Homo sapiens: one gene and its partners. The protein of the gene in region 1 interacts with the protein of each later gene in a pairwise test. Each region holds a gene or a part of one and is shown in the gene's direction. Other genes may lie near its edges.

Region 1 (7,472 bases):
TCCAGCTCCTTGGGAGGTTGAGGCAGGAAAATTCCTTGAACCTGGGAGGTGGAGGTTGCAGTGAGCTGAGATCGTGCCACTGCCCTAGCCTGGGCGACAGAGCAAGACTCTATCTTAAAAAAAAAAAAAAAAATTCTTTCCAGGTTTTCTTCTTTTGCTATTATAGTTTGGCTTAAAAATATTATATTTGATTAAATTGATATTAAATTTGTTGTAAAAAGTCAGGTATTACCACTTGAAGGTAGTTGTCCATGTTCTCTGGCATTTTGAAGAATTGGACAAAACACACAAACAAAGCAAGGAAGTGAAAGCAGAAATTTATTTATTTATCTATTTATCGAGACGGAGTTTTGCTCTTGTTGCCCAACCTGTAGCACCATGGCGCGATCTTGGCTCACCGCAGCCTCCGCCTCCTGGGTTCAAGCGATTCTCCTGCCTCAGCCTCCCGAGTAGCTGGGATCACAGGTGTGTGCCACCATGCCTGGCTAATTTTTGTTTTGTTTTGTTTTGAGACAGAGTCTCGCACTGTCACCCAGGCTGGAGTGCAGTGGCTCGATCTCGGCTCACTGCAAGCTCCGCTTTCTGGGTTCACGCCATTCTCCTGCCTCAGCTTCCCAAGTAGGTGGGACTACAGGCGCCCGACACCATGCCTGGCTAATTTTTTTGTATTTTTAGTAGAGACGGGGTTTCACCGTGTTAGCCAGGATGGTCTCGATCTCCTTACCTCGTGATCTGCCCGCCTCGGCCTCCCAAAGTGCTGGGATTACAGGCGTGAGCCACAGCGCCCAGCCGCAGAAATTTATTTTAAACAAAAGTACGCGCCACAGGGTGGGAGCAGGGTTGAACAAGCCTGAAAAGCGTGGGATACAGAATTTTTTGGAGTTTAAATACCTCCAGAGGTTTCCCATTGGCCCACCATCAGTCTGATTGGTTGCGGGAGGGGACCAGTCAGAATGAAGAGTAGGCCAGTAACCAGTTTGATTGGTTGCAGGAAGGGACCAGTCAGCATGAAGAGTGGGCCCATGATCAGTCTGATTTTTTCAGGAGAGGAGCTATCAGAGGCCTTGCCTTGCCTTGCCTTGCCTTGCCCTGCCCTGCCTTGCCCTGCCTTGCCCTGCCTTGCCCTGCGCCTTGCCCTGCCCTGCCCTGCCCTGCCTTGCCTTCCCCTGCCCTGCCTTGCCTTTCTTTCTTTTTTTTTTTTGAGACCAAGTCTCGCTCTTGTCGCCCAGGCTGGAGTGCAGTGGCGTGCGATCTCGGCTCACTGCAACCTCCGCCTCCCAGGTTGAAGCTATTCTCCTGCCTCAGCCTCCTGAGTAGCTGGGATTACAGGCGCCCACCACCTCGCCCGGCTAATTTTTGTCCTTTTAGTAGAGACGGGGTTTCGCCATGTTGGCCAGGCTGGTCTCGAACTCCTGATCTGAGGGATCCGTCCGCTTCGGCCTCCCAAAGTGCTAGGATCACAGGCGTGAGCCACTACGCCCGGCCGGTATTTTCATTTTTCAACTGCCAGACAGAAAAAGGAGGGCTTGCAACTGCCACGGAGCAACTGCCACGCAGAAAAAGGCGTGGGTGAAAAGAGAGTGGCTTCTGATATCCAGTCAGCAGGAGTCGGCCTGAGGGTCCCCGCCTCCAGACCTTGTTATCCTGCCTCACAGGTAGATACCCAACTTATTTTTTCCATGACTGTCTTGCCTATTCTTTCAATATTATCTCCCCTTATGAATCTTAGAACTTATTTGTCTAATTTCAGAAAGTATCTTATTGATACATTTTTCGAGAAATGTATAGGTTACTTTAGGAATAATTTTGTCAGTGATTAGAAAATCTAAGCAACCTGAAATTCCAGGTTTTCCTAAATACTATTAAAGTAACAACACCTGTCTGTTAAATAAAAATTAAGGAGACCCGCTCTTTTTTTTTTTTTTTTTTTTTTTTTGAAACGGAGTCTCTCTCTGTCACCCAGGCTGGAGTGAAGTGGCGCAATCTCGGCTCACTGCAACCTCCGCCTCCCGGGTTCAAGCGATTCTCCTGCCTCAGCCTCCTGAGAAGCTGGGATTACAGGCATGAGCCACCAAGCCCGGCTAATTTTTGTACTTTTTTAATATAGATGGGGTTTCGCCATATTGGTCAGGCTGGCCTCGAACTCCTGACCTCGTGATCCACTCTCCTCGGCCTCCGAAAGTGTTGGGATTACAGGCGTGAGCCACCGCGCCTGGCCGCAGGGTTTTATTACTTTCGTTTTGTATCTATAGGAGCCTTAGTCATGAAGGAGCCATGATACATATTTATCAAATTTTTGTAATCTTCTTTAGTTACACATTTAGGTTTGTTGTCCACTTACCCCCCCCCCCCCGCCCCTTGTACTTACAAAGGTGTGGTAAACAGCCTTGGGTTTATTATTCCACATCTTTGTATTTCGGTAGCATATATTTCTAGAAAGGAATTACCATCTAGAAGGGAACAAATGCATATTTTAAATTTTGATAGATACTACGAAGTGATCGTCAAACAGGGCATCAGTGACACCCCCGTCCACAATATAGCGGGTGTCCACTTCCACACACTCCTAAATTCTGAATATACAATTTTTAAAACTTTTGCCAGCCTGTAAATCTGAGGCAATCTAGGTCATGGCATTTACCGTTGAGAGACAGATACGCAAAAGAATCTCTCCTATTGCCTGGCTTACTGTCATCATTCCATATTTTCCTTATTTTACCGATCAATCTGTCAGTAAAATATGTGTGATGGCTATAGTGTCAGCGAATCTTAAGGAAAAGAATTAAACATCAGACTCCACCGAGCCCTTAAAGAAATCCACGCAAACAGGTTGCTTTTTGAAATCAACACTTCCGACCAGTAACTGAAGGGATGGAATCTGCTGTAGGGGTATTCGGTGTGTTCCATTCTTAAAGCGGGGAGTTCCTTTTTTTTCCCCCCAGACGAAATCTCACTCTGTTGCCTAGGCTGGAGTGCAGCGGCACGATCTCAGCTCACTGCAACCTCCGCCTCCCGGGTTCAAGCGATTCTCCTGCCTCAGCCTCCCGAGTAGTTGCCTGGGATTACGGGCGCCCACCACCACGCCCGGCTAATTTTTGTACTTTTAGTAGAGACAGGGTTTCACCATGTTGGCCAGGCTGGTCTCGAACTCCTGATCTCGGGCGATCTGCCCGCCTCAGCCTTCCCAATTGCTGCGATTATAGGCGTGAGCCATCGCGCCCGGCTGGGAGTTCCATTTTTCTGGGAGCTCCTCCAAGACCCTTACCCCCACCCCCAGAAGAACCCAGCTGAGTTCGCGGGCCTGCCTTTGTCTCCAGAGCCACGCAGCGCTCCCAGACACGCTGCGCCGGAGAAGGCAGCTTTCTTCTGCCGTCCTCACCCTAGGAAAGGGGGTTTCTTCCCTGGCCCCAGTGTCCGATGCTCAGGGATCGGGTTCTCCCTCCGAGGGTGCACCTGGAAACCCGAGCGTCGCCCCGGGGCTCGCTTTTTTCAGACCGCGTCCCATACAAGTCCGCGACCCTTCCACGTTTGGGACAGGAGTGGGAGAGCTTAGCGCTTCCTATTTTTTTGTGGGGGGAGTGCAGGTGATTATAAATCTGGGCATGCAGACTACAGGCTTATTTGACCTGCAGCCGAGTGCGGGGCCAAGCGCCGGGCTCCTGGGGCGCCACCGTTTCCAGACGCGCAGCCACCCGGACTGGACGAGGGGCGGGGTCCGACCTAACTGCCATCCGATGGACAGCGTTTTTTATTCGCGGTTTTCACCCTGGACTTTGGCTTAGTTAAACCTAAAGAGCTTTTTGGAATCTTATCTTTCCCAACGTCTATGAAGTGGGAACTCAATCTCCAGCCCTCTACGTGTGTGTGTGTGTGTGTGTTCAGCGAAGGGAATTCACCCCGGAGAAGAGCCCTGGGTCACTAAAGCGCCGGGCACCACGAGGGTGGAAAAATCCTTCAGAACCAGCCAATGGCGGTACGGCCTGCCCTGAGGGCCCGCCTCTCCGGCGCCCTCAGACATCACGCAGTCGTTGTTGTGATTGGCGGATTTAGGCGGAAAGCCCGCTAGCCTAAACCACAGAGGGTTTTGATTGGTTGCAGCGAACAGCCGCATTTCTATAGTCCAAACCTGGAGCAGTTTAGTGATAAATCCCGCCCTAAAAGGCATTTGATAACCGTTTTACATGTTGTAAGGCAAAGGGTGATTGGTCAGAGAGCTCACGGATTCAGTCGGTAGTAAACACAACCAGACTTCAGGGACCGTGGATTGGTCAGTTTTTCCGGGGGCTAAGTAAATTCCTCCAGGTTCCGCGCGCCGGCTGGCTGCACTCCTACCCCGGCCCCGCCCTTCCCATTGCTGATTGGTTGCAGCCCAACTGGGAGAGGCGGAATGGGGCGGAGTAGGCGCTCTTGCATTACGTCACTTCCGCTTATCCTCGGGCGCCGCCGCCGTGTTCTCAGAGTGCTGCGGCGAACTGGCTGGAGGAGCTAGGGGACTAGAGGCGGGGTGGGAGGGGGGCGGGTGGAAGGGGGAGGAAGTCCCGTAACGGAGACGCTGGTCAGGACGTTCCCACCTCCTCTGACACTGCCGAGTCCGATCGGAGAGGGGTCACCGCCTCCTTCAGCGAGGAGGAGGGGGGCGGAGCCCGACTCAGGTGAGGAGACCCCGTCAGCGAGTATCGTGATGGCGGGCGCGCTCACGTGGGGAAGGTTGAGCACCAGGGGCGCGCCAAGGCGTCGGGGAGCGCGCAGACGTGTACTGGTGCCCCCGGACTACTCTGGCTGTCTTTCGGAGGGGAGCATTGTTACCGTTGGAGCCAAGGGGCCAGGCGGGTTCTTCTGCGCAGGCGTCCCCGGTGTCCCGACGCCAGGCTGTCTGCGGGGTGGGGCGGGGGCTGGTACTCCTGTGGATCCCCGGCTGGCGACGTAGGTTCCCGAATGGGGTGGGAAAGGCCTCAGGACCAGCGGCCTGGCGGGATGAAGAGAGGATCTGCTGCCCTGCGGGATGTGGTCGGACGGCTCCCTTGCCCCCATCCTGGGTCTTGAGCGACGAGGTTTCATTTCACCAGAGCAAGGCCATAGGCAGACTGCCATCGGGAGCCAGCGGCCGACCCTGGAGGGGTGGAGCCAGTGTTTCGGAATGCCCCAACTTGTTATGAGAGGACTGAAGTGTTTAATAGGCATTTATTGAATGCCCACTACTCCCAGGCTTCGTGCGAGGAGCTGTGGGGGATGCGGTGGTAAGACACTGCCGTCCCATCTTCTCCTGTTTGGAGGACAGATTTGTATGTAAATAATAAAAGGCAGTGAATTAAGGGGTGTTGAAGGTTAGTTTTTTCCTTTCATAATGGTCATTTTTTTTTAAGTCAGTCAGCATTCTGGCATAGTGAAGGATATTGTGGAAACTAATTTTCTGAACAGAAGGCAAATCCTAAATAATTTGGAGGAAAAATTTTAGGTGAAAGCACAGTAAAGTTGATTACTAAGTAGTATCTTCTGACTCTAGTTAACTTGAATTAATAGAAGGAACTCTTCACCTTCAAAAATTGAAGCAAAAATATTCCAAAACATGTTCTCATATTTTTCACTTGTATTAAGTAGAGGACATTACGGGCTTTTCTTTAGAGGTTGAAGAGAATGCTGTGCCTTAGTCATTAAGTCATTGGTAATTTGTTGTCCTAGTATGGGCTGTTGTGCTTAGATGTAAAAGGCTGGGCAGAACTTGCTTTTCATTTGCCTAAACTCTTGTGATTTCTGTGGGGACGGTGGTTGGCAGTAAGCTAATAGTTCAGAGGGAAAAGTCCAGATGGGAAGAAGACAAGGAATTTTAGAGAAAAGCCCCTAAGCCAAAGGAAACCGTTCACTCTTCCTTTTAACCCTTATGGAAATCTCATCAAATTTGGGAAGATTGACCTGGCCACCACAGCCAGCTTGGTGACCTTACAGGTAAGACTACTTGGGTGGGGACCTGTTTTGGGCCCTTGGGTTTTGCTGAATAAACAGACTCTTTTTTTGAAGAGTCCTGAAGTCAACTCGTTTACTAGAGATTTGCCCCTTTTCCCTAAAAGTTGTGTCAAAACATAACTTTTAGTTAGCTGAGGATGCTGGCAAGCTGGATTTTGGTTAATTGATATGTCTCTAGCAGAATTCTGAAAATGGTAAGATTTGGAGGAAAGGCATCTTACAGACTTAGGAGCGAACGCTCTCAAAAGAGACTCACAAGACTGTCCCCAAAGTGGAAGTAATAAAAAATCACTGGGATATCAAATAGTACTTAAAGAACTCAGCATGAATTATATCGAATTGGAGACTTTAAAATATCTTGTGTTCAGTGAAATTGACAAAACCTGGTGTAGTGCTGACAGAGAATCTTGAATCTGGCTCACATTCGTTTTGGAAATGGAAAAAAGAACCCAAGGTATTGATTCTATGTTAGCTTTCAACTTTTTTTTTAATGTAAATTAATTTTAAATACTTTCCCCCTCTGTCAGTTTTAAGCGTGTGATTTTTCTTTTACTGTACGTAATATTTCTCAAATATGGATGTTGTCTAGTAGAGCCAGTTTTGTTAGTGTAGCAGGTGGGATGGAATGTAGCACTACACTATGCCTTTTGTCTAAGTATGAAGTGAACTTCTCATCTCCTAAAAGACCAGCTGTTTCTGAGTGAACTATTGCTCTTTGCATATGTTCTCATCATTTTCACCACTGAATAGTAGCTTTTAATTTCAAGATCCAGTTTTAGAGGTGCCTTTCATTTTATTAGTTATACATGTATTTCCTAAAAGCTTTGATTTATCTTGACATCCCAAACAGATTAGGTTACTCTGACAATTCGAAGGGTGAGGAGGGCAGAGAAGAATTTTATTGAGTGATGGAACAGCTCTCAGAGAAGAGGGCATGCAGGGGGTGGTCTCTTTCCCAGTGTGGCTGGTTCCGGGGCTTCTTAGGGACTCAGAATGGGGAGTGTGTGCTGATTGGTTTCTGATGCAAAAAGTTTAAAGGGAAGGCCGGGTGTGGTGGCTCACGCCTGTAATTACTGCAATTGGGGAGGCTGAGGCGGGCAGATTGCCTGAGCTCAGGAGTTCAAGACCAATCTGGCCAACATGGTGAAACCCTGTCTCTACTAAAAATACAAAAATTAACCCGGCATGGTGACGTGCGCCTGTAATCCCAGCTACTCAGGAGGCCGAGGCGGAAGAATCGCTTGAGCCTGGGAGGCAGAAGTTGCATTGAGCTGAGAGCATGCCACTGCACACTTGGAGTCTTGGAGACAGAGTGAGACCCTGTCTCAAAAAAAAAAAAAAAACGGTTAAAGCAAAGACACCACTCAAAGGTGGGCACGACAGTGTAGAAAACCAATTAGGAAAGGGGTAGATATATGTAAAATAGGTGAAGGGTGGGGATCAGTCAGAGGAAAGCATGCCAAATGGGAACACAGGTTCTCAATCTGGTCCGTGGATTTGACTTGTAGCTT
Region 2 (7,580 bases), on another chromosome or scaffold:
AAGAAAGAACCGATATGAGTATATGGCAATGTTTTTAACAAGCTGAGGAAAAACTAAACGTTTTGACTTTTTTTTATTTTACCTCAGAGACTGGGCACAGTTTTGTCATTCTTGGCATTGCTAGCAGAGACTATTTTTTGAGAAACACTGGTGGGTATTAGCTTCCTTTATGGTGCCTCTTACTACATACCAAATCATTACCCCTTATCTTTTACAAAAATAATCTGGAATGGCATTTGGGGAGGACTAAGTAATGCAACACAAGAAATTATTTTAGAAAGAGTCATTTGCACAAATTAGATTTTAGTCACCGGCTTGCTTACTTATTCTTTTTTTTTTTATTTTTTAGCATGTATGCTCTATACAATCCATAACACTTATGATGACATTGAAAATAAAGTCGTTGCAGATCTAGGATGTGGTTGTGGAGTACTTAGCATCGGAACTGCAATGTTAGGAGCAGGGTACGTAATGCAATATATGCTATTTGGGTATTGGGTGGCTTTAATAAGGAGCATCAATGGGATTAACTGAATTATATTTATGAGACTCCACAGAATGAGATATAGGGAGCAAAAATCTGATACTGAATACATTTTGAATGGGCAGAAGATCTAAACAAACTACAAAAATTAAATAAAAATGGTGAAAGCAGCAGTTCCTTTTATACAAACCTGAGTTTCCAACCCCTGCCGGGTTTGGAAATTATGCTGTTACACTTGACTGGGCACAGTGGCTCATGCCTGTAATCCCAACACTTTGGGAGGCCAAGGTGGACAGATTACTTGAGCCCAGGAGTTTGAGACCAGCCTGGGCAACATGGTGAAATCCCATGTCTACAAAAAATACAAAAATTAGCTGGATGTGGTGGTGTGCGCCTGTGGTCCCAGCTACTTGGGAGGCTGAGGTGGGAGGATTGCTTGAGCAGTGCAAGATGGCACCACTACACTCACCTGGGTGGCACAGCAAGATCCTGTCTGAAAAAAGAAAAAAAAAAAGAAGAAAACACTCACTCTTACTTTGCTAATTGGGTTAAAAAGATATATGGTTTAAAAAAAAAACAGCTAATTTTGGTTTTGTTTTTACTTGGGAGCTATAAGTCGCCACTCTTTGTATGTGTTTTGTATTTATAGGTTGTGTGTTGGATTTGACATAGATGAAGACGCATTGGAAATATTTAATAGGAATGCAGAAGAGTTTGAGTTAACAAATATTGACATGGTTCAATGTGATGTGTGCTTATTATCTAACAGAATGTCCAAGTCATTCGATACAGTAATTATGAATCCTCCCTTTGGGACCAAAAATAATAAAGGTTTGTAACAAGAATCGGGTATATTGGTATATTTATAGAAAAGATTTTAAAACCATTTTTAAGGCCAGGCGCAGTGGCTCAGGCGTGTAATGCCAGTGCTTTGCGAGGCTGATACAGGAGGATCATTTGGGGCCAGGAATTGGTAGCCATCCCGGGCAACATAGTTAGACCCTGCCTCTACCCACACACACACACACACACACACAAATTTTAATTTCCCAAGTGTGGTGGTGCACCTATAGTCCTAGCTACTCAGAAGGTTGAGGTGGGAGGATCACCTGAGCTCAGGTATTCGGGGCTGCGATGAGCCATGAATGTGCCACTGCACTCCAGCCTTGGTAACAGCAAGACCCTGTCTAGAAAAAATTAAACAAAAATAAAAACCATTTTTATCACTGTTTGGGCTAAGTGATTTTATCACTCTTCATTAAATAAACCAAGGCTAAGTGATGTTATTACTCTTCATTAAGTAAACCAATCTCTTATTTGTATAGTTCTTATAATTTACATTTCAATTTGTTTAATGCATGGCTAAGAAACTGAGTTTTTCAACTTTCATTTTTACAAATTTGTATTAAGTAAACAAAGATAGTCATGTCATTTATTGTATATCTCCCATTTGCTTTCAGGAATAATTTGCCTAACCCTTATGAATGAATACGAAACATAGAAAGAATTTTATACTTTCAGAATCTGTTTTTTAATGTCTTAACAGACCCAAGGGTTTCTACATGTGCCCATCAGTAACAGTGACTCACCGTGGCTGTTAATTTTGTGTGTACTGTGGGCAAGGAGGTTAGGAAGTCAGTGAGGGTAGGAAAAGACATGCATAGTTTGGCCGGGCGTGGTGGCTCACGCCTATAATCCCAGCACTTTGGAGGCTGAGGTGGGTGGATTACCTGAGGTCGGGAGTTTGAGACCAGCCTGACCAACATGGAGAAACCCCGTCTCTACTAAAAATACAAAATGAGCCAGGCATGGTGGCACATGCCTGTAATCCCAGCCACTAGGGAGGCTGAGGCAGGAGAATCACTTGAATCCGGGAGGCGGAGGTTGCGGTGAGCTGAGATCATGCTATTGCACTCCAGCCTGGGCAACAAGAGCGAAACAAAAAAAAAAAAGACATGCATAGTTTAAAAAGTACCCTGCCCCCACCAAGATGATTCTGAATAGTACTCTATGCATTTCCTTCTCCCCTTTTTGAAGTCATTAATGTTGGAATATAATATTAAAATTTTTACTTTATCCTTATTTAACCAAGACAGTATAATTCTGGTTTTATTCTACCAGCCTTAAAATAATATTTTGATAGTTTATTTGTACCCTTATTGCTAAAAGATTTCAAGGTGGCTATTTTGAAGTTTGGAAGAAAATATTTCTAAATCCTACTAACTTAATCTTCTGTTTTGAGAAGAGGTAAATAGGAGCTTTTTTTCTACTCTTCACAGGGACAGATATGGCTTTTCTAAAGACTGCTTTGGAAATGGCAAGAACAGCAGTATATTCCTTACACAAATCCTCAACTAGAGAAGTAAGTTCAAATCATCTGATATTCTGTGGCATTGATTTTTAAATTCATGACAGTGTTTTTAGGATTTGCTGTGAATACTAGATACCACAGTATCTATTTCTCCTGACCATTTTGACATGTGAAACTTAAATTTTCCACTTAACCAGCTAGCATCTGATTGGCCTTTTTCCAGGCTATAAGACTTATTTCCTCAAAGATTTTTTTCAGACAGGAACTGTTGCCAGAGGAGAGACTATAACTCAGGAGTAGAAAAGTGTGTTGTAACTAGGATTACTGTATGTTTTGGTTTCTCTGAGTAAGTCTTAGTTGATCCCTTTTGTCCCATTGTCCCGGTGTGGCCTGATGTACTTAAGGGAGGCAGTAAGGCCAGGTTTTCAGAACACTTGAGCCTGGAGCTAAACAGATCTGAGTTCAGAAATCACCTATTCTTACTTTTGCAGCATATAACACATGGAGAGGTGTATAAGTTGTAGTCCAGGAAACTGGGGGAAGGGGCAGTACATTTTTTTAGTGTCAGTATAACACAATAGTTAGGAACAGAGATTCTGAAGCCAGACCAGATTCTCTGGGTTCAGATCCAAGTTCTGCTGCCTCCCAGCTGTTTTCTTGGTCAAGGTAATTGAGTTTCATCATCAAGGTAATTGAGCTTTTGTCATCTATACTATCCTCACCTGTACTCTAAGTGTAAGGGACTGAGAGTACCAATTGTACTTCATAAGAATTGTGAGGATTACATGAGTTAATATTTACAAAGCACTTAGATCAGTGTCTGACATGTGTAATTGCTATGTGTTAGCTATTATTATTTAAATCATACATGTATTCAAAGATTTTAAAGTGCTTTTGTAGGAAAAATACTTAATTCATGTAAATACAGTACGTAAGAACCCAGTTGGAAATAATACATTCTAGTTACATGGTAATGTGATAACCTTTTAAAAAGCATAAAATATAACAGCTAAAAAGAACTATACTGCTAATAATAAGTAGTGGTACATGTAGGCAAGCAACAGGACACAACATAGCTAGTAAATAAATCCTCACTCACTATATATGAAAGCAAACACCAGTAAACATTGGTATCCAAACCTGTGTCCCCAAGAACACCCTCAGGTTTGATGATTCACTAGGAAATCTCACAGGACTCAGCATCTAGTCTTATTCATGGCTATGATGTATTACAGTGAAAGGATATAGAGCAAAATCAGCAAGGAGAAAGGTGCATTAGGCAGAGAATGGGGTAAACCAGGGCCAGGCTTCTGGAGTCTTCTGCCAGTAGAATAACACAGGACACAATTAATTTTCCCAGCATGAATTATTGATAACACATGTGAAACATTGCCAACCAGGGAAGCTCATTAGAGACTCAGTGCCCAGGGCTTTTATTAGGGACTGATCATGTAGGCAATTCCCTTTCTGACACATACCCAAATTCTAGACTCCCAGTAGGAAAACAGGTGTTCAGCATAAACAGTGTTAGGCACAGTCAGTCACTATTATTAAGGGAGTAGGGAGTGGGAGGCTTCCCAAAATCTAAGTTCCCAGTCTCCAGACAAGGGCCAAACTAAGCAGGCCTTTCTAAGGATAAGCAGCCAGGCCTGCTGTGAACTCTTTTCTGCACAGCTTGGCATAACATGAATTTTTTTTTTAATTATACTTTAAGTTCTAGGGTACATGTGCACAACATGCAGGTTACATACGTAGACATGTGCCATGTTGGTTTGCTGCACCCATCAACTTGTCATTTACATTAGGTATTTCTCCTAATGCTATCTCTCCGCCAGCCCCCCACCCCCCAACAGGCCCCCGTGTGTTATGTTCCCCTCCCTGTGTCCATGTGTTCTCGTTGTTCAACTCCCACTTATGAGTGAGAACATGCGGTGTTTGGTTTTCTGTCCTTGTGATAGTTTGCTGAGAATGATGGTTTCCAGCTTCATCCCATGAACTCATCCTTTTTTATGGCTGCATAGTATTCCATGGTGTATATGTGCCACATTTTCTTTATCCAGTCTATTATCGATGGACATTTGAGTTGGTTCCAAGTCTTTGCTATTGTGAATAGTGCCGCAGTAAACATACATGTGCATGTGTCTTTATAGCAGCATGATTTATAACCCTTTGGGTATATACCCAGTCATGGGATGGCTGGGTCAAATGGTATTTCTAGTTCTAGATCGTTGAAGAATCTCCACACTGTCTTCCACAATGGTTGAACTAATTTACACTCCTAACAGTGTAAAAGCATTCCTATTTCTCCACATCCTCTCCAGCATCTGTTGTTTCCTGACTTTTTAATGATTGCCATTCTAACTGGTATGAGATGGTATCTCATTGTGGTTTTGATTTGCATTTCTCTGATGACCACTGATGATGAGCATTTTTTCATATGTCTGTTGGCTGCATAAATGTCTTCTTTTGGGAAGTGTCTGTTCATATCTTTTGCCCACTTTTTTGATGGGTTTTTTTTTCTTGTAAATTTGTTTCAGTTGTTTATAGATTCTGGATATTAGCCCTTTGTCAGATGGATAGATTGCAAAAATGTTCTCCCATTCTGTAGGCTGCCTGTTCACTTTCATGATAGTTTCTTTTGCTGTGCAGAAGCTCTTTAGTTTAATTAGATCCCATTTATCAATTTTGGCTTTGTTGCCATTGCTTTTGGTGTTTTGGTCATGAAATCTTTGCCCATGCCTATGTCCTGAATGGTATTGCCTAGGTTTTCTTCTAGAGTTTTTAGGTCTTACATTTAGATTTTTAATCCATCTTGAGTTAATTTTCATGTAAGGTGTAAGGAACGGATCCAGTTTCAGTTTTCTGCATATGGCTAGCCAGTTTTCCCAGCACCATTTATTAAATAGGGAATCCTTTTCCCATTGCTTGTTTTTGTCAGGTTTGTCAAAGATCAGATGGTTGTAGATGTGTGGTGTTATTTCTGAGGCCTCTGTTCTGTTCCATTGGTCTATATATCTGTTTTGGTACCAGTACCATGCTATTTTGGTTACTGTAGCTTTGTAGTATAGTTTGAAGTCAGGTAGCATGGTGCTTCCAGCTTTGTTCTTTTTGCTTAGGATTGTCTTGGCTATGTGGGCTCTTTTGGTTCCATATGAAATTTAAAGTAGTTTTTTCCAATTCTGTGAAGAAAGTCAGTGGTCGCTTGATGGTGATAGCATTGAATCTATAAATTACCTTGGGTAGTATGGCCATTTTCATGATACAGTGCTCTACACTTTCGGAGAAACTTCTCTAGTAACGAACTATAGAAATGATCCCTGAAAGTATAGTCTTGGCATAACATGAATTTTATAAAACTCAGTTTTACTGCATGAACTGAATTCCCCATGTACCTATATCTCTGCCAAATGGTTTCTAGGCTAGCTAGCTGTATATATCAATGAAATAATGCTACAGAAACCATATGAGAACATTACACATCTTTGATAGATTTCTGAAATAGTCATGCATCCTTTAACAACAGGGATATGTTCTGACTAATGCATTCTGAGGTGATTTCATCATTGTGCAAACATAGAGTGGACCACCGAGGCTCTGTGGTTATAGTCTGTTGTTCCTAGGCTACAAACCTGTCAACCTATTACTGTATTGAATACTACAGGCAATTGTAACACAATGGTATTCTTTTGATCTAAACATATATAAACACCAAGAAGGTAATGTGTTGTGCTGTGATGTCAAGATAGCTACATCATTAGGCAATAGCAATTTTTCAGCTCCATTTATAATTTTATGGGACTACCAAAATATATGCAGTCCCTAGATAACCCCAAATGGCATTATGTGGTGCATGAGTAGCTTTCTATCACTTGGATTTATTGTGTGATTTGGTTCAGATTGTTAAATGTATTGAAATTGATTTATTATTTTCAGAATACTATCCATTCAATTGAAATTTTTATAAGGGTCTAGATTCTAATGAAATTTTAAGCTTAAAAACTCAATCTCAAGTATTAGTAAAAAGCAATTTTAAAAAATCATTATTTAAAAATCAGCTCATAACAACATATTATTTATGTTCAGCATGTTCAAAAGAAAGCTGCAGAATGGAAAATCAAGATAGATATTATAGCAGGTAAGACAAATCTCAATCCTAATATCCAAAAGGGCCAACATGTATTCGCCCAACCAAAATTTTCATGCAGGTGCTGAGAAGATAAACTATGCTTTACAGTGTGGCAAAATGTGCATGATTGGTAATAGATTGGAAATGGAGTAAAAGCAGAATGAACACTTAGCCTGAGACTGTCCTAATTTATGCGATTTACTGAAAATTTCTAATAGCACTCAGGTATTTGGTCACTCCAGACTCAGGCAGAACACTGTATAGCAGCACAATGGCTAAAAACATGGGCTGGGGGCCAGGTGTGGTGGCTCACGCCTGTAATCCTAGCACTTTGGGAGGCCAAGGTGGGCAGATCACCTGAGGTTTGGAGCTCAAGACCAGCCTGGCCAACATGGTGAAACCCCATCTCTACTAAAAATATAAAAAATTAGCCAGGCATGGTGGCGCACACGTGTAATCTCAGCTACTTGGGAGACTGAGGCGGGAGAATCGCTTGAGTCCCAGAGGCAGAGGTTGCAGTGAGCCGAGATCGCACCACTGTTCTTCAGCCTGGATGACAGAGGAGACTCAGTCTCAAAAAAACAAAAACAAACAAATGAAAAAAAAAAGTGGGCCGGGCGCGGTAGCTCACGCCTGTAATCCCAGCACTTTGGGAGGCT
Region 3 (7,712 bases), on another chromosome or scaffold:
CAATGGGCCTGAAGTTTATGATAGGTCATCAGGGCTAGCAATCAGGAAGAAAAGTTGGATTGCATTGAGGGAGAGTGAGGACAAACTAGAATCCACAGGACAAACTGGAACCCACGAAGACAAAATGGAACTCACAGCTATCTTTCACATTGACGAGCATGCGATATGTAGCATAAGCTAATGCCTTTACCATGGAACTACACGTGCCTTGCGCCAAGGCTTGGAGACACTGAAATAGAAAATTTGGTGGGAGTTGAAGGAGCTGTGGGCCAGTTAATGCTCTGTACCAACAAAGTATGTTAGCAGATCAGTAACCACTCTATGATCTGCAGCGGCATGTGATATTTACATCAACCTTCAGAACACAAGGGCTGCTGCTTCCAAATCTTACATAAATCTTACCTGCTCCTTCCAAACTTACACGAAATTCTTCTGTAGTGAATCCTATCCTGGATCCACATTGGGAACGGACATTTGAGGAACTAGATTTCAACTTACCTAATTGACACAGTACAAACATCAGTGACTGTCAGATACCATGATGCTGATGCTGTGTCTTATACATACTACCCTCTCATTTAAACTTCATACCAGTCTTGCAAAATAGATCTCATCTGGAAAGACCTCATCAAAAAAATAAAAATTAAAAAAAGAGGCCGGGTGCGGTGGCTGACGCCTGTAATCCCAGCACTTTGAGAGGCCGAGGCAGGGTGGATCACGAGGTCAGGAGTTCAAGACCAGCCTGGCCAAGATGCTGAAACCCCATCTCTACTAAATATACAAAAATTAGCTGGGCATGGTGGCACGCGCTTGTAATCCCAGCTATTTCAGAGGCTGAGGCAGGAGAATTGCTTAAACCCAGGTGCCAGAGATTGCAGTGAGCCAAGATCAAGCCACTGCGCTCCAGCCTGGGTGACAGCAAGACTTCGTCTCAAAAAAAAAAAAAAAAAGTTTCCTTTCGGCCGGAACCGCCATCTTCCAGTAATTCGCCAAAATGACGAACACAAAGGGAAAGAGGAGAGGCACCCGATATATGTTCTCTAGGCCTTTTAGAAAACATGGAGTTGTTCCTTTGGCCACATATATGCGAATCTATAAGAAAGCTGATATTGTAGACATCAAGGGAATGGGTACTGCTCAAAAAGGAATGCCCCACAAGTGTTACCATGGCAAAACTGGAAGAGTCTACAATGTTACCCAGCATGCTGTTGGCATTGTTGTAAACAAACAAGTTAAGGGCAAGATTCTTGCCAAGAGAATTAAGGTGCGTATTGAGCACATTAAGCACTCTAAGAGCCGAGATAGCTTCCTGAAACACGTGAAGGAAAATGATCAGAAAAAGAAAGACGCCAAAGAGAAAGGTACCTGGGTTCAACTAAAGCGCCAGCCTGCTCCACCCAGAGAAGCACACTTTGTGAGAACCAACGGGAAGCAGCCTGAGCTGCTGGAACCTATTTCCTATGAATTCATGGCATAATAGGTGTTAAAAAAAAAAATAAAGGACCTCTGGGCTGTAAAAAAAAAAAAAAAAATTAAAAAAAGAAAAAAGAAGTGTTGCAAAATAAATATTAGCATTCTCATTTTACATATGAGGAAATGAAGCCTTATATTTACTCATAGATGAGTCAATGGGGAAGCCCGGATTCTTCCCGACATCTGTGTGGTAGCCATCTTCCAAGATGACCCCCATGATTCTTGCCCATTGGTACTCATATCCTTTTGTAGTTTCCCTCCCAAATCAAATAGATTTGACCTGAGCAATCAGTAGAGCATTGCAGAAATGATGGTGAATGACTTTTGATGGTGGATCGTAAGAGACATTGCAACTTCCATCTTTCTCTTTCTTGAATCAATTGAAAGCCAGCTGACGTGTTGTAAGGATACTCAAGCAGCCTGAGGACAGGCCCATATACAGAGGAACTGAGGCCTTCTGTAAACGACCCATCCATGTGAGTGAACCACCTTGGAAATAGATTTTCCAGCATCAGCCTAGCCTTCAAATGACTACAGCCCTATATTTTACTGCAACCTCCTGAGACACTTCAAGCCAGAACTATAGAGCTAAGTGGCTTCTAAATTCCTGACTTACAGAAAATATGAAATAATGTTTACTATAGTTTTAAGCTGCTAAATTTTGGGTTAATTGGTTACACAGCATTAGATTAATATAATCTGTTAGATTCTGAAGCACAACTCTTTACTTTTCTTTCTTTCTTATTTTCAATTTTTTTGTGGAGACGGGGTTTTGCTACATTGCCCAGGCTGGTCTTGAACTCCTGGCCTCAAGCAATCCTCCCACCCCAGTCTCTCAAAGTGTTGGGATTACAGGCAGGAGCCACTGCACCCAGGAAAAGCACAGCGCTTTCTATGACATCATGCTACTTTAAAATTTGTTTGGATAGGAAGGGCATGGTGGCTCACGCCTGTAATCCCAGCACTTTGGGAGGCCAAGGAGGGCAGCTCACTTGAGGCTGGGAGTTTGAGACCAACCTGGCCAACATGGCGAAACCCCATCTCTACTAAAAATAAAAAAATTAGCCGGGCGTGGTGGCTGGCGCCTGTAATCCCAGCTACTTGGGAGGTTGAGGCAGGAGAATCGCTTGAACCCGGGAGGCGGAGGTTGCAGTGAGCTGAGATCATACCGTTGCACTCCAGCCTGGGCAACAGAGTGAGACTCTGTCTCAAAAAAAAAAGAAAAGAAAAAAAAAGAAAAAAAATGCGTTTGGATTGTATGAATGAGGATGATGGGAGAAGTAGGAATTTGGAAGTCCACAATGTCCTGGTCTTGTCATAAAAAAAAGGCTTTGAAATATGTTTGGTACTTCCAGATACTGAGAGAGAAGAAGGGTCATATAGTGGTTAAACTGAACCTTGAGAATTAGGAGGTTTTCTTCGTTTCTTTTTTCTTCTTCTTCTTTTTTTTTTTTTTTTGCTACTCAGGGTAAGCTGACTTCGCATGAATAAATCAGAGGTTAAACCATGTGGTTTTGCTGACTGGCAGACTTGGGCTGGAAATGGGGAAGATAAATGATAGAAATTGGATTCTGGTAGGGCAAGAAAAGTCCTGACAAATGGTGATGAAATGGGGTAGAACCTTCAGGACAGTCACAGTGAGGGGCTGGCCACCCTTTTGCTCCTGCCCCTTCTTTCGTCAGTGGGGCCATCCTCTCCTCTTCCCCACCAGTTCCTTTTTGATCTCAAACTCACTGAAGAGGCTCCTTCTTGTTCTTCTCTTTCCAAATATCCCTTTCTTATGAAGATCTTTTCCTTTCTTAATAAGGCAAACATGTGCATTAAGGAACTTAAAAAAGCAAAACAAAACCAAACTTCATCTGAGAACCACCTCATTTTAAAAACTCTTGGTGTTTATTGTTCTCTCCAATTAGTCCAGGATTGGAGAGGAGAGGTACTGAGCCTGGCGATTTAATCAGACCTTAGTTAACCGGCAATAGTTATTATCCTAGGATGCTAGTACTGCAAGAACCCTTCCAGAACATCTGGTGCAACCCTGCTCTTTTTATACGGGATAATTTGAAGCCCAAAGAGATCAAGTGACCATTGTGACCACCGCGAACAGATATTAATTCAACAGCTGCAATCGAATACTTTTTTTTTTTTTTTTGAGACGGAGTTTCACTCTTGTTGCCCAGGCTGGAGTGCAATGGCGCGATCTTGGTTCACTGCAACCTCCGCCTACCGGGTTCAAGCGATTCTCCTGCCTCAGCCTCCCGAGTAGCTGAGATTACAGGCATGTGCCACCACGCCCGGCTAATTTTGTATTTTTAGTAGAGACGGGGTTTCTTCATGTTGGTCAGGCTGGTCTCGAACCCCCGACCTCAGGTGATCCGCCCGCCTTGGCCTCCCAAAGGGCTGGGATTACAGGCGTGAGCCACCACGCCTGGCCGAATACGTTCTTTTAAATGGTCCATCTCTTTGGATTAGTAAAATGGGTGGAGTGATTTGGAATTGGCCCAGATCTCCTATTCTGCAAGCAGAGAAACACTACAGAGAGGTATTACCCAGGTCAAACCCCTCCTAAGATGTGAATTGAACAACAGCTAGGCGTTAGGAAGAAAATGCTGCCTGACCCTGACTTCTAAACTCCCCTTAAACGTCGTCGCTGTGTCCCTAGAACCCAAGATAGAGTATGCATGAATAAACTTTTGCGAAATGAACCAACAAACTTCCCTCGAGGTCCTTCCTGCCTCCCCGCCGCCCTGCATCTCCCCGACTTGGGACTGCGCTATCATTTCAGTCCTGGTCTGGGGACTTTTCGGGGTCTTCTCTGGCCTTCTCAGACAGTGACTCCGTTCCCAGGACAGGACCAGGGATCCCTTTTTCACTGCGGGGCGCTGGGAGGAGGCGGGTAGGCTGCTCACCTAATCTCTCGGGTTTTTCCTCAAGACGCGGTCATTTGTGTGAGGTGTTGTACTCGAGCACCCAAAATGGCCCGAACTGGTCTGGGAAACATTAGGGAGATGTGTTTACCGTCCTGGCTGACACTGAAGGCCAAGCATTCTTGCCACCAGGCGTGGCTTGACTCGCAGAACCCACACTCTGGCGGCTGTGGGCGCGGCACTGGACCGGCGCCGGCAGCAGGGCGGGGCCTGGCGGGGGCGGGGCCTGGCGGGTCAGGTGACTGCGCGGCGGGCTGTGGCTGCGGAGGTTGAGGGGCGTCCGAGGCGCGGAGGGGCTGGCTGGGCAGGAGGGGTTGGCGGGGCAGCAGGGCCGCGGCCATGGGGAGCTTGAAGGAGGAGCTGCTCAAAGCCATCTGGCACGCCTTCACCGCACTCGACCAGGACCACAGCGGCAAGGTCTCCAAGTCCCAGCTCAAGGTGGGCGCCTCCTGACCCGGCCCCCCACCCGACCCTCCCCGGCGCGCTCTGTACTTCCCTTGGGTGGAAGCGGGACCTGGCGGGCCGTGACCGCAGGGCGGGGCGGGTCGGAATGCGCCCGGTAGGCCCGCTTGGGGCGGAGTGGGTCTGAGACCGGGATTTGGTGTTTACTGCCTCCCCCTTGCCTTCGGGCCATGCCCTCGGTTGGATGTGTTAGTTCCCGCGGGTCTCCCAGGGACTGGGAAGGGTGGCGGGCATAAGGCTGGGGTGAAGTCTGGAGGGCCAAGTGTGATTCCTTCTTGGCGTTGGAGAGCGGGGGGCAGAAAGTGGATTCTGAGGCGGCAATGGGAAGCTCCCTTACACAGCCTTCCCAGAATTTTCCTCTTACTCCAGGAGAGGAAGGGACTTGCCCAAGGTCGCTGGGCAGAACCTTCTGCAGCCCACAGCCCCACACCAGGACAGTCCTCAAAACGGCTAGCTGCCCCGGAGGCGACAGGGCAGTCCGGAGACGCAGAAATGCCCCGAAGCCCGGCCTCCAGGGTCCTTCTCCTTTGGGAGGCTTTTTGACTTGGGAAGACCTTCCGCCCAGCGTCTTTTAAGTTTGGAACTAGTGGACGGGGTGTACTGTGTCCCACAGGGACCTTAGTTCCGGGTGAGGAGCGCTGATCTTTCTGGCACCCTGCAAAAGCGACTGCTTTTTCAGAGTCGTTATTGTGACTGCCGGAGACCCTAGAGTATAGGGTATAAATAAAGGGATGCTTGTAAATTGAGTAACCCCAAGCAGCGAAATTGGCATTAAGCCAGCAGAAATTGGCAGCTTCTTCAAAGTAAAAAAATATAGAAACAGACAAGAAAAGCTATTCATAGGCATTTAAAAATATACATATTTTAGATCCGAATGTCCGGTTTTCTTAGCCCCTTCTGGGAATAAATTCTGAAGATTGGGTTTGTTTTGTATATTTTTGTACAGTAATCCCGTTCTTCTGAGTAGTGGCTTTTATGCCAGTAGGACTTAACATTCTCCTTGTCTTCCTTTTGCCTCTCCTTTCTTTTTCTCACTGATAGAATCATAGTCTGGAAGGGTCCATGGAGATCATCCACGTAATTTTTATTTTACTTCATTTTTAAATATTAACATACAGTAAAATTGACTTTTGGTGTACAGTTCTATAAATTTCAACATATGTATAGATTTATATAACTATCACCACAACCATGGCTTCCTCAGTTCCATCATCCTAAAAAACTCCCTGATGTTGCCCTGCCTCCACCCCAACTGTCGGCAACCATTGATCTTTCCTAATTGCTATAGTTTTACCTTTTCCGAAGTGCCATGTAAATGGAGTCATATAGTTTGTAACTGTTGAAACTGATTTCTTTTACCCAGCATAATGCCTTAGAGATTAATCCATTTTGTTGTGTGTACCAATAATTTTTTAAATTGCTAAGTAATATTCTATTGCATGGATGTATGGTAGTTTTTAGCCATGCATCTGTGAGAATTTGTGTTATTTCCAGTTCGGGGGAGTTATGAGTAGGTCTACATTTTACTTTTATTTTTACTTTTAACTTACCTATGCCATTTTATTTAAAGTAAGTTTTTAATAAATAGATGTAGCTGGGTCTTTTTTTTTATTCATTCTGACAATCTCTGTCTTTTAATTGGTATATTTAGGCCATTTACATTTAATGTAATTATTGATATGGTTTGATTTAGGGCTACCATTTTATTATAATTTGGTTTCTGCTTTTTTTTTTTCCTCTCTTTTTCTTCCATCTTTGGGATTATTTGAATATGCTTTAGTTTTTTGTTTTTTTTTTTTCTGAGACACAGTCTTGCCCTGTTGCCCAGGCTGGAGTGCGGTGGTGTGATCTCGGCTCACTGCAACGTCTGTCTCCTAGGTTCTAGAGATTCTCGTGCCTCAGCCTCCCAAGTAGCTGGGATTGCAGGTGTGCGTCACCACACCTAGCTAATTTTTGTATTTTTAGTAGAAACGGGGTTTCACCATGTTGGCCAGGCTGGTCTTGAACTCCTGAGCTCAGGTGATCTGCCCTCCTTGGTTTCATGAAGTGCTAGGATTACAAGTGTGACCCACTGTGCCTGGCCAATATTTCATTTTAATAGAGTTTTTTACTATATTTCTTCATGTAGGTTTTTTTAGTACTTGCTCTAGGAGTTAGAATATCCATCCCTAACTTTTCATAGTGTACTTAGAGTTAATATTTTACCACTTTAAGGAGAATGTAGAAAACTTATCACCATATAGGTCCCTTTACTCTCACTGCTTTATGTTGTAATTGTCATATTTATTAATCTACATACATTGAAATCCCCATCAGACAATATTAAATTTTTTGCTTTCAACCATCATTTCTCTTTTAAAGATCTTAAGAGGAGAAGAAAATTTTATTCTTTTTTTCCAGATATTCCCAGATGACCTCTTAATTTTTTTTTTTTTTTTTTGAGCCGGAGTTGCGCTCTGTCACCCAGGCTAGAGTGCAGTGGTGTGATCTCGGCTCACTGCAACCTCTGCCTCCCGGGTTCAAGCGATTCTCCTGCCTCAGCCTTCTGAGTAGCTGGGACTACAGACACGTGCCACCAAGCCTGGCTAATTTTTGTATTTTTAGTAGAGATGGGGTTTCACCATATTGGCCAGGGTGGTCTCAAACTCCTGACCTCGTGATCTGCCCGCCTTGGCCCTGCAAAGTGCTGGGACTACAGGTGCCCGCTGCCATGCCTGACTAATTTTTTTGTGTGTATGTTTTAGTAGAGACGGGGTTTCATTGTATTGCCCAGGCTGGTCTCGAACTCCTGAGCTCAGGCAATTTAACCAACTTGGCCTCCAGAAGTGCTAGGATTACAGGTGTGAGCAACTG

What was found.
Region 2: the proteins of ZBTB5 (region 1) and METTL5 interact in binary tests that used the Homo sapiens proteins (3 or more experiments, as listed by UniProt).
Region 3: the proteins of ZBTB5 (region 1) and SWAP70 interact in binary tests that used the Homo sapiens proteins (3 or more experiments, as listed by UniProt).

The regions. Positions count from the first base shown.
Region 1 is NC_000009.12:37,462,395-37,469,866, reverse strand, and holds the start of ZBTB5 (zinc finger and BTB domain-containing protein 5), read left to right. Parts: upstream 1-4,416; 5' UTR 4,417-4,652; exon of another isoform or gene 4,653-5,943; intron 5,944-7,472. UniProt on the Homo sapiens protein: May be involved in transcriptional regulation.
Region 2 is NC_000002.12:169,814,827-169,822,406, reverse strand, and holds part of METTL5 (rRNA N(6)-adenosine-methyltransferase METTL5), read left to right. Parts: intron 1-349; coding exon 350-464; intron 465-1,133; coding exon 1,134-1,315; intron 1,316-2,763; coding exon 2,764-2,846; intron 2,847-6,028; exon of another isoform or gene 6,029-6,128; intron 6,129-6,878; coding exon 6,879-6,930; intron 6,931-7,580. UniProt on the Homo sapiens protein: Catalytic subunit of a heterodimer with TRMT112, which specifically methylates the 6th position of adenine in position 1832 of 18S rRNA.
Region 3 is NC_000011.10:9,659,444-9,667,155, forward strand, and holds the start of SWAP70 (switch-associated protein 70), read left to right. Parts: upstream 1-4,633; 5' UTR 4,634-4,736; coding exon 4,737-4,835; intron 4,836-7,712.